3 linked regions of the Homo sapiens genome follow. The protein of the gene in region 3 interacts with the protein of the main gene of each other region in a pairwise test. Each region holds a gene or a part of one and is shown on either strand. Other genes may lie near its edges. The genes, in order: CASZ1, EPSTI1 and PPM1D.

Region 1 (3,656 bases), on a different chromosome or scaffold from region 3:
GAGGCGGTTAAGGAGAGTTTATGGGGAATATTGTTGAACTTCAGTAATCAGGTTTCCAGCGATCTTATGCCTCCTGTTTAATTTATTAGACTAGTTATTTATTCTGTTGATGATAATCTGTTGCTGGTTTCTATGGAGATGTTAAACTGATCTCTTTCAGAAATCAAACTCCATATGCACTAAAACGTTTAAAGGGGCAGTGCCTTCCTCTTTTTTTCCCCTTGCCTTGTTTGTTTGTTTTTTAGACTTTGCACCTTGCCGAGACTTGGAGTCTTGCTCTGAGTCTCGGCGCATTTTATTTCCTTCTTACGAAGGAGAGGAGCCCAGCCCGGGAGCCTTACGCTTTGTGGCAAGTACAGCTTATTATGGCTAGAAGAAAGCGAAGGCTTTGATCTCTAAGTTGCATCATCATTTAAAACAGATCATTTCACCACCACCCCCTTCCTCCCCCCATCATATAAGAGCAAAATTCTTTCAAGATCAAAGAGTCCAATCTTTTAAAAAAGCTATTGTTTAAAAAAATAAGAAAGTCAGTTAAATATGAAACTCCCTTTTATATCTGCTCCCCTTATGTTTAAATAATTTTTTAATAAGAAAAACAAAACTTGTAGCTCAGCTAATTTTTTTCACACTTATTAATAGTTTATCTTGCCCCCCACCCCTTTTTAATTTAAAAGAAGTTCAAAGTTAGATTTCTCTGCCTGTGGGGGTTGAGGTATATTTGCTCCTCTTTTAGATCCTGACCATCTGTTTTAGGAAAATTAGCCTCTGGGAAGAGGGGAAAAGGAGTTTTTAGTCAAACTTACTGGAGTGCTTTATTTATTTATTTATTTTTTGGGGAAAATTGTCACCCAAATATTTTAAAGTTCAATTTTGCCTGCTTTTTGGGAGAATATCGATAACCTCTGTCTGGTATGTGAGAGTACATCAACTTTTTCTCCTTTTCTTCTCTGCCCAGGTATTTTTCTGTAGATTTGTGACTGGTTGGGGGTGGGGGTGGGGGCGTGGGGAGGCGGTGCAGTGAATTAAGAAAGGAAGACAGAAAAAAATTATCTTGTTTTGTGACACTGAAAAATTGCAAACTGACTCTGACTCAGATATTTATCACGCTGACAGATATGATACAAAGCGATTGCATTTCCTAATGATCCTTTGGGACTAAGTTGTAGGTAGAACCATTTAATGCATTTTTAATATTAAAGTAAGGCAGGGGTTGCATTTTCTTGGAGGTAGGGGGAGTGAATGTTCTTCCATAGAGATGGTGCTTTCTGAATATACTGCTTTACTTTTTCAACTGGACACCCCCCCCAACCCCACCCCTCCACATTTCCATTTACTTTGTGTGCGGGGCCGGGGGGGGGGGGGCGGGGGGGAGGGGTAAGCCATGTACAGAGCATTTGGCTTTCATAAATAAATTTATATCTGGCCAGAAGGTTCAATGCTAAATAAGAGCACACTTAAAAAAAAAAAAAACTGACTCCACCCCTGCTATAGGAAATAAAACAGGCAATACTTGAGTTTTTTTTTTTTTCTTTCTTTCTGCCACCCTGGTTCTCTTTTATATTATTTTATATTGGAGGGAGGGAGGTAGAGTGGTTGTTGCTGCTCAGCTCAGAGGCGAGAGGAACCATTCCTATTATTTCCCTCTTTGCTATATTTTTAAAATTTGTTTGATTTGGATTGCAAACAGAACAGAGGCTTACGAGTAGAAAAGAGCACTGTGGCTTTAAACTCAGGAGTTTGCATATTCTCCTTGTATCTTTCCCCTTTGCTAATTATTGTGTTGTTTTCAGAGCAAATATGTCATATCCATGGCGACCGGGCAGGTTTATTGTCTTTCTGAAGCAATAGCTCACATAAGTAATTAATGACTTTCTTTTTTTTCCTCTGGCTTAGGTTAAACAGATCATTCAAGGAAAGTCATCTCTCTCTTCTCTCTCTCTCTCTCCCCCTCTTTTTCTCTCTCTCTTTTTTTAGCCCAGTGACATAAGAACATGAGTAGAACAAGAAAATACTTTAACCAAGAAGTCAACAGCTTATTTTCCCCCATTTCTTTTCAAGGCTGAAGTGTCAGCTTTCAGACATATGAGGCTGTCATTCTCGCAGCCCTCAGCAGTGCAGTCCACGCCTGGGCTGGAAACCCACTGAAAGGTTGTGTAGTTTGGAGACAAGGGAGGTGTTAGCATGACGGGGGGAGGAACCTGGAGGAATTTGCTTTTGAGGTTGGGGGAAGCACTCCAAAATAAGTATTTCTCCTGTATTTAGCAGAATTTAATTAAATTGTTTACAGGAAAGAATTAATGAGTTGGTAGTAATGTGTTTTCCCACCTCCCTTCTTTTTCCCAGTCTAGTTAATTGGAAAGACTAAGTTTTTCTTTTTGCTTCACCTTCAGCTTCCGCTTTCTCCGACCTTTGTCTCAAGTGCTTTTTCCAGGAAAAGTAGCTTTTGGAATCCCCACTGGTTAATATTTCCAGAAGTATAGTGGGGTTTTTGTTTTTGTTTTGCTTTTCCCCTTAGACCTACAACTCAGAGCTGGTTTCTTCTTCTCGGGAATCAACAGCTCTGATGATTGACTAACACTTGGATTTTTCAACTTTTTTTTTTTTTTTTGATGGGAAGAGGGTCTCTTCGGATGTAAAATTATATAGATGGCACATCTCCCCTTCTGCATCTCGTGGCAGTATTAGGGAAGGTAGAAGCAAATTTTTTCTTTTTTAAAAAAAAAATCACCTTTTATGATCTACCCTTTACAAATGGACCTTTGCTAATAAGATTCCTCATGATGTCCCCCCCCAAACTTTAGAATGTGCTAGATGTCCTACTAATATTCTCCAGGGCTCGCTCGCCCCCTCTTATAGACATACATTAAGTACATTTATACCATCCTCTCCCCCTTTTTAAAATGTCAGGCATAGCCAAGGTTTTTGTGTGTGTCCTTACAAGGGGGGAACGAGATAAAGAGAGAAGCATTTATGTTGTACTCACACACAATTAAAAAGAATATTCTCCCCACCATCTGAACGAAGTTCAAAAAGGCTGTGAGTCCACGGAATGAATCTTTAGGCTTTTGGCATTGAAAATAAAAATATAAAGAAGAGAGATTTATTTGGTATCTTGTTTCTGAAGAGGAGAAGAGAAGGCCGAGCCAGTCTGATGCTGAGACTCCAGCGGAGTTGTAATTGAGCCCGTAACCTCTTGATGTCTATATCAGAAAAACAGACATGAGCAGAGGGAACCGAAGAGAGGCAAACAAGCCTGGTAGAGGAGAGGGAGCTCAGGGGGAGATTCACGGAGAGAGGAGAGAGATTTAATTTATAGACATTTTAAAAACCGTAATTTCATTAGGATCTGTTCTTCCCTTTCTCTGAAGGGCAGCCCGGCAGACCGATAAGGCCGGTCCCTGTGCCCGGGATACGTGGCGTGGTTGGGAGGGTGCAGGCTGGAAGCATCATTGCCAGCACCCCGTGTTGGTTTCTTCTCTGTCCACTTTCTACTGGCTTTCTTATTTTGAAATTAAAAAGTCCCAGATGGCCAGAAGTCAGCCGTGGTTCTGGCTGCCTGGTGATCTCTCCTCTGGCTGCCACGCCGCTCTGCGAGTGGGTCTGTCTTCTGCCTGGGCGGTGGCATCTGCGTGGCTCCCTTTGGTTGCAGGGCT
Region 2 (2,833 bases), on a different chromosome or scaffold from region 3:
TTTGACTACAAAGGCTTTGAATTTTATTTTGCTGCTTGCAGTAATTTTTGTTTTCTTTTTCTTCCAGGGTATATGAGAAAATATTGACTCCTATCTGGCCTTCATCAACTGACCTCGAAAAGCCTCATGAGATGCTTTTTCTTAATGTGATTTTGTTCAGCCTCACTGTTTTTACCTTAATTTCAACTGCCCACACACTTGACCGTGCAGTCAGGAGTGACTGGCTTCTCCTTGTCCTCATTTATGCATGTTTGGAGGAGCTGATTCCTGAACTCATATTTAATCTCTACTGCCAGGGAAATGCTACATTATTTTTCTAATTGGAAGTATAATTAGAGTGATGTTGGTAGGGTAGAAAAAGAGGGAGTCACTTGATGCTTTCAGGTTAATCAGAGCTATGGGTGCTACAGGCTTGTCTTTCTAAGTGACATATTCTTATCTAATTCTCAGATCAGGTTTTGAAAGCTTTGGGGGTCTTTTTAGATTTTAATCCCTACTTTCTTTATGGTACAAATATGTACAAAAGAAAAAGGTCTTATATTCTTTTACACAAATTTATAAATAAATTTTGAACTCCTTCTGTATAAATGGGTCATTTTTATTTTTAATGAAAAGTTATTGGGGTTTTCTCTCTTGAAGGGTCTCATTTTAATTCCCTTTTCCAGGCCGTATAGATCAAATATAGTACTGTCATTACTGTTGGCTCTTGTTTTGGTCTTGACTTACTAATAGTGTTACCCTGATTTTCAGAGGGGGACAGTTTATCTCCAGAAAGGCCAATGTTTGTATACACATCAGCTAGACACAAATATAGACATCATATGTAGTTTGTACATGTTTCAGAAACTTGTTTTTTCTTTGCTCTGTGTAACCTATTTCCTATTGCTAGTTCAGTTGGCTTTCTTATTCACTTCTGTGACCCTGAACCAGTTCTCAGACCCTAGAGTGTAAGAGCATTGATTTTCTACGCTGTGTAATCTAGCTCAATCCCTCTGTCCCCTCCGCCTCACCGTCCCCCAGCCACCACATTGTATAGCAAAAGCATTACATTCAATCCTAGAATAAAGGTAAATACAACAAATCATCTTTGCAGCTGGACAACTAATAATACTTTGCAGCATTAAGAGATCTTCTGTGTTACCAGTCACTCTGTTGAAATGAACTTTCCGAATCTCTTTATTCAGGAAAACATGGGGTTTTGAAATTCTTGGGCCAAGAGACATAACTGAGGGGTTCGCAGAGCTAGGCAAGGGTGCACTAGGAAAGGGCCACATTGGTGGGTGGGGGGTAACAGAGAACAGATGGTGTCAGGAAGTTTCTCTGGAGTAAATAATGTGGATATTCTTGGTTTCCCTCTCCTCCGCCAGCTGAAGCTGTGTTAGTGCTGTTGACACTAATATAAAATGTTTGGTCCATTTGAAATCCTTGTCATTGCCTTATATGGGGGAAACTCAATCCCCCAGCCTGTGTTGGAAATATCACCAAACTGATTGTAAATGTGCGGCTGTAGCAGACATTTTAGTGTGGTGGTGTGCAGCCATTTCGGCCCTACACCTGCCAGCCTGGCTACCTTACAGTTGTGTTCCGATTTTTGCGTCTATGCTTGGTGTGCCTCACTTGCTGCATTTTCCAGCATGCAACCAGGAGTTGACGTAGGAAAAAGGGATGCTTTCTTACTTTGGAAGCTCTCAGGGAAGTTGGTGTCAATTTCTCCTCCACTGCCTGGCCTACCCTGCACTCCCAAAGATTTTGTGCAGATGGGTAGTTCCATTTTTTAAAAATTGTGCAGATATGGAAAATTGTGACTTACTTCATGACCAGAACTATCTAGAATATGTGTGGGGGTATAAACATCTTGCTTAACCAAATATCTATGTAGGCAGAGGTAACCAGGAGAGAAGCAAGACTTGCTGCCTAAAGGAGCCCACCATTTTACTTTTCACATTTAATCTGCCACGTTGAATCAATTGGAATAAAACCTGACTCGCAGGTGACTGGACAGGAAATCCCAAAGTTCCACCATTTCTATGCTTAATTTTAATGTCCCCCCGCTTTTTTTTTTGTAGAAAATAAAAACAAGAAAATCGTTCCAATGTAAGATGTTTGTTATAGAAACTTTAGGCAATACAGGTGTGTAATAAAATGTTTAATAAACTTCTAAACACTTTTGTATTTGGATTTACCACTTTTTCCTTTGTGGTTTCTTCTTGGTATTATGTTGATAGATCCTAAAATCTACAAAGCAACAACCTCTACCCAGTGGCCTATTTTAACAAAACAAAGGATTTCCCCTACTACTGGGCTTAGTTATATTATAGTAGATAGTCAGGCAGACAGGAGCAGGCCAAGAGAGGCCCCCACTACCAGGAATGTCAGGCAACCATCAGGTGATGGTCAGCCAAGTTATTTTTGTTGTTTTTCTTTTTTTTTGAGATGGAGTCTCACTCTGTTGCCCAGGTTGGAGTACAGTGGCATGACCTCGGCTCACTGCAACCTCTGCTACCCGGGTTCAAGAGATTCTCCTGCCTCAAACTCCCAAGTAGCTGGGATTACAGTCTCCCACCCGCCACCACGCCCAGCTAATTGTTGTATTTTTAGTAGAGACGGGGTTTTGCCACGTTGGCCAGGCTGGTCTCAAACTCCTGACCTCAGGTGATCCGCCTGCCTCAGCCTCCCAAAGTGCTGGGATTACAGGCATGAGCCACTGCACCCAGCCGGCCAGCCAGTTGTTAAGCTGACTCTCTAAAGTAATAATTGGTTGCAGCCAGTGCCAGGGAAAGGCAGTCTCCCAATAGATAGAAACACCTGAAACTGGTGATCAGCAGCTTCTGAT
Region 3 (3,656 bases):
TTTTTGTAGAGACAGAATGTGGCTGTGTTCCCCAAGCTGGTCTCCTGGCCTCAAGTGGTCCTCCTGCCTTGGCCTCCCAAAGCACTGTGAATGTAGGCATGAGCCACTGTACCCTGCCAAATTTTGTGTTTTGAATGTGCTGTAGAACTTCTGAGAGTTCGCCTCATTTATTCATTCACATTTATTGTAGTAGAAGTTTTTTTTTTGTTTGTTTGTTTTTTAATTTACTTCAGTTTGTTTAAAAAGAAAGAGGATAGCCAGGCACAGTAGCACATGCTTATAGTCCCAGCTGCTTGGGAGGCTGAGGCAGGAGGATTGCCTGAGCCCAGGAGGTCAAGGTTGTAGTATGTGATGATCACACCTGTGAATTAGCCTGCACTCCAGCCTGGGCAACATATTGAGACCCTGTTGTTAAAAAAAAAAAAAAATAGAAGAAAGGGTTTTATCAAAAGCTAGTAAACACCCCAAATAATTGAAAGGGCTGAAGAAACATACAGTATACTCTAGGCTGAGCTTCCATGAAATAACTTCTGCAACCAGATTGCAAACTGGATGGGCTATGAAGCTGTCCTTGCTGTGATTTCTGCCGGCAAAATTGATACCTTTTCTCTGCTTTTTTTTTATTTTAAATATTGCAAAATAAGCATATGTATAGAAAAGGTCATAAAACATAAATGTACACTTCAATGAATAATTATAAACTGAACACCATCCAGTTAGGAAAGAACATTGTCTGCACTGCAGATATCTGTATGTCCTTTCTGATTTCATATTTCTATCTCCCCCTAAAAAACTACCTTCCTGACTTTCATCATGAGAGTTCTGTAATGGTTTACTTGTTTTTCTTAATAGTTTCACCACTTTTCTCTAAACATGATGGTTGTTTTTGAAGAAAGTCATGCTCTATGTGTTCTTTTATCATGTGCTGCTTGTGAGATTCTTGTGTGCTTTATGTAGTATTGTCCATTTTCATGTTGAACAACTTGGGCTGTTGCCCATTTGTAGCCCTTATTATTGTTTTAGAGACAGGGTCTTGCTGTATTTCCCAGGCTGTAAACTCCTGGGCTCAAGCGATCCCCCTGCCTCACAGCCTCCTGAGCAGCTGGTACTACAGGCACATACTACCATGGTTGACTCATGTATTTGTTGTGTATGTATGTTAATTTGTGGTATATACCTAGGAGGTAGTCAAAGAGTATACATATCTTTACCTTTAATAAGTAATGCCTAAATGTTACCTGCAATGTACCAGTTTACACTTTCACAGTAGTTGATGATAGTACATGTTGCTCCATTTTCTTGACCACAGTTCGGTTGCTATTGTCGAACTTTAATTTGTGCGGTCTTGTAGTTATGCAGCACTATCTCATTGTGGTTTTAAATTAGTATTTCTCTGATAATTAAAGAAGCTGAATACCTTTGCATATTTTGTGGCTGTTTGGATTTCCTATTTTGTAAAAGGCTTGTTTAAGCTTTTTGTCCATTCTCCCATTTGGGTAGTCTGTCTCATTGATTTGATTTGTAGGAAAATTTTATATATTCTGGATGCTTTTCCTTTGGCGCGTAGGTGTGTGTATTCTGTTCTCTGTGTTGTTTTTATTCTAATAATGGTATCTTCTGAAGAATAGATTTTTTTAGTTGCTTTTAAAAAAGATGTGCAATGTGATAGATGATTTTATGTATGTATACATTGTGAAATGATTACCACAGTCAAGTTAATTAACACATCCATCACCTCACATAGTTACCTTTTTTTGGTGGTGAGAACACTCAAGATTTATTTTCAGCAAATTTCAAGTATACAAAACAGTATTATTAACTATACTCTCTGTGTTGTACATTAGATACTAAGAACTTACTCATAATGGGAAGTTTGTGCTGTTTGACCAACATCTCCCCACTTCTCCTAACCCCTAATCCCTGGCAACCGTCCTTCTACTCTTTCCTTCTGTGACTTTTTCTTTAGATTCCACGTATAAGTAAGATCACACAGTATTTGTTTTTTCTGTGTTTGGCATATTTCACTTAGCATAATGTCCTACAGGTTCATCCTTGTGTTGCACATGGCAGGATTTCCTTTTTTTTTTTTTATGGCTGAACGATATTCCATTGTGTATACATACATTTTCTTTATTTATTTATCTCTTGCTGGATACTTAGATTGTTTTCATATCTTGGATGTTTTGAATAATTCTGCAGGGAGTGTTGAGGTACATGTATCTCTCTGAGAGACTGATTTCATTTTCTTTGGATATACATTCAGAGGTGCAATTCCTGAGTCATATGGTACTTCTATTTTTAGATATATTTTTAATTCTATAATATTTTCCATAATAGCTATGCCAATTTACATTTCTATCAGCAGTGTACAAATGTTCTCCCTTCTTCACATCCTGGCCAGCACTTGTTTACTGTTATCTTTTTGATAATAGCCATCCTAATAGGTGTGAGGTTATCTCTCTCTTTATTTTTTTAATTTTTTTTTAGATGGGTCTTCTCGCTCTGTTGCTCAGGCTGGAGTGCAGTGGTGTGATCACTGTAGCCCCAGACTCCTTGGCTCAATGGAACCTTCTGTCTCAGCCTCCTGAGTAGCTAGGACTACAGATGTGTGCTACCATGCCCGGCTAATTTTTAAATTTTTAGTGGAGATGGGTCTCGTTATGTTGTCTATGCTGGTGATAAATTCCTGGCCTCAAGCGATCTTCCTGTCTCATTTTGTTTTTGATTTGAATTTCCGTCATGATGCTTGATGTTGAGCTTCTGTTCATATACTTGTTGCCCATTTGTATGACTTCTTTGACAAATGTCTATTCAGGTCATTTGCCCAGTTTTTTTTTGTTTTTGTTTGTTTTGTTTTGTTTTGTTTTGTTTTGTTTTGAGACAGAGTCTCGCCCTGTCGCCCAGGCTGGAGTGCAGTGGCATGATCTCGGCCCACTGTAAACTCCACCCCCTGGGTTCAAACTATTCTCCTGTCTCAGCCTCCCCAGTGGCTAGGATTACAGGCGCCTGCCACCATGCCTGGCTAATTTCTGTATTTTTCGTAGAGACGGGGTTTCACCGTGTTAGCCAGGCTGGTATTGAACTCCTGACCTCCTGATCCACCCACTTCGGCCTCCCAGAGTGCTGGGAATACAGGCATGAGCCACCGCGCCCGGCCTGCCCAGTTTTTAACTGTGTTTTTGTTTGTTTGTTTGTTTTGCTATTGAGTTGTATGATTTCCTTATATATTTTGGATATTAATATCTTACCACATAGTGTAAAGTTTGTAAATATTTTCTCCTGAAAGTTGCCTTTTCATTTTGTTGATGGTTTCCTTTCCCGTGCAGAAGCCTTTTAGTTTGATGTAGCCCAACTGTTTTTTTCTGCTTTTGTTGCTGTTTTTTTTGTTTGTTTGTTTGTTTTTTTGAGACAGAGTCTCGCTGTACTACACAGGCTGGAGTGCAGTGGCGTGATCTCAGCTCGCTGCAATCTCTGCCTCCTGAGGTTAGGATCCCTCCTGAGCTGGGATTACAGGTGTGCGCTACCATGCCTGGCTAATTTTTGTATTTTTAGTAGAGACAGGCTTTCACCATGTTGGTCAGGCTGGTCTAGAACTCCTGACCTCATGGTCCACCCACTTTGGCTTTCCAAAGTGCTGGGATTACAGGCATGAGCCA

Evidence for each region.
Region 1: the proteins of PPM1D (region 3) and CASZ1 interact in a two-hybrid assay, tested with the Homo sapiens proteins (one large-scale study listed by BioGRID and IntAct).
Region 2: the proteins of PPM1D (region 3) and EPSTI1 interact in a two-hybrid assay, tested with the Homo sapiens proteins (one large-scale study listed by BioGRID and IntAct).

Annotation. Positions count from the first base shown.
Region 1 is NC_000001.11:10,790,037-10,793,692, reverse strand, and holds part of CASZ1 (zinc finger protein castor homolog 1), read left to right. Parts: intron 1-3,656. UniProt on the Homo sapiens protein: Transcriptional activator. Involved in vascular assembly and morphogenesis through direct transcriptional regulation of EGFL7.
Region 2 is NC_000013.11:42,885,737-42,888,569, reverse strand, and holds the end of EPSTI1 (epithelial-stromal interaction protein 1), read left to right. Parts: intron 1-67; coding exon 68-76; coding exon of another isoform or gene 77-320; 3' UTR 321-2,182; downstream 2,183-2,833. UniProt on the Homo sapiens protein: Plays a role in M1 macrophage polarization and is required for the proper regulation of gene expression during M1 versus M2 macrophage differentiation.
Region 3 is NC_000017.11:60,617,140-60,620,795, forward strand, and holds part of PPM1D (protein phosphatase 1D), read left to right. Parts: intron 1-3,656. UniProt on the Homo sapiens protein: Involved in the negative regulation of p53 expression. Required for the relief of p53-dependent checkpoint mediated cell cycle arrest.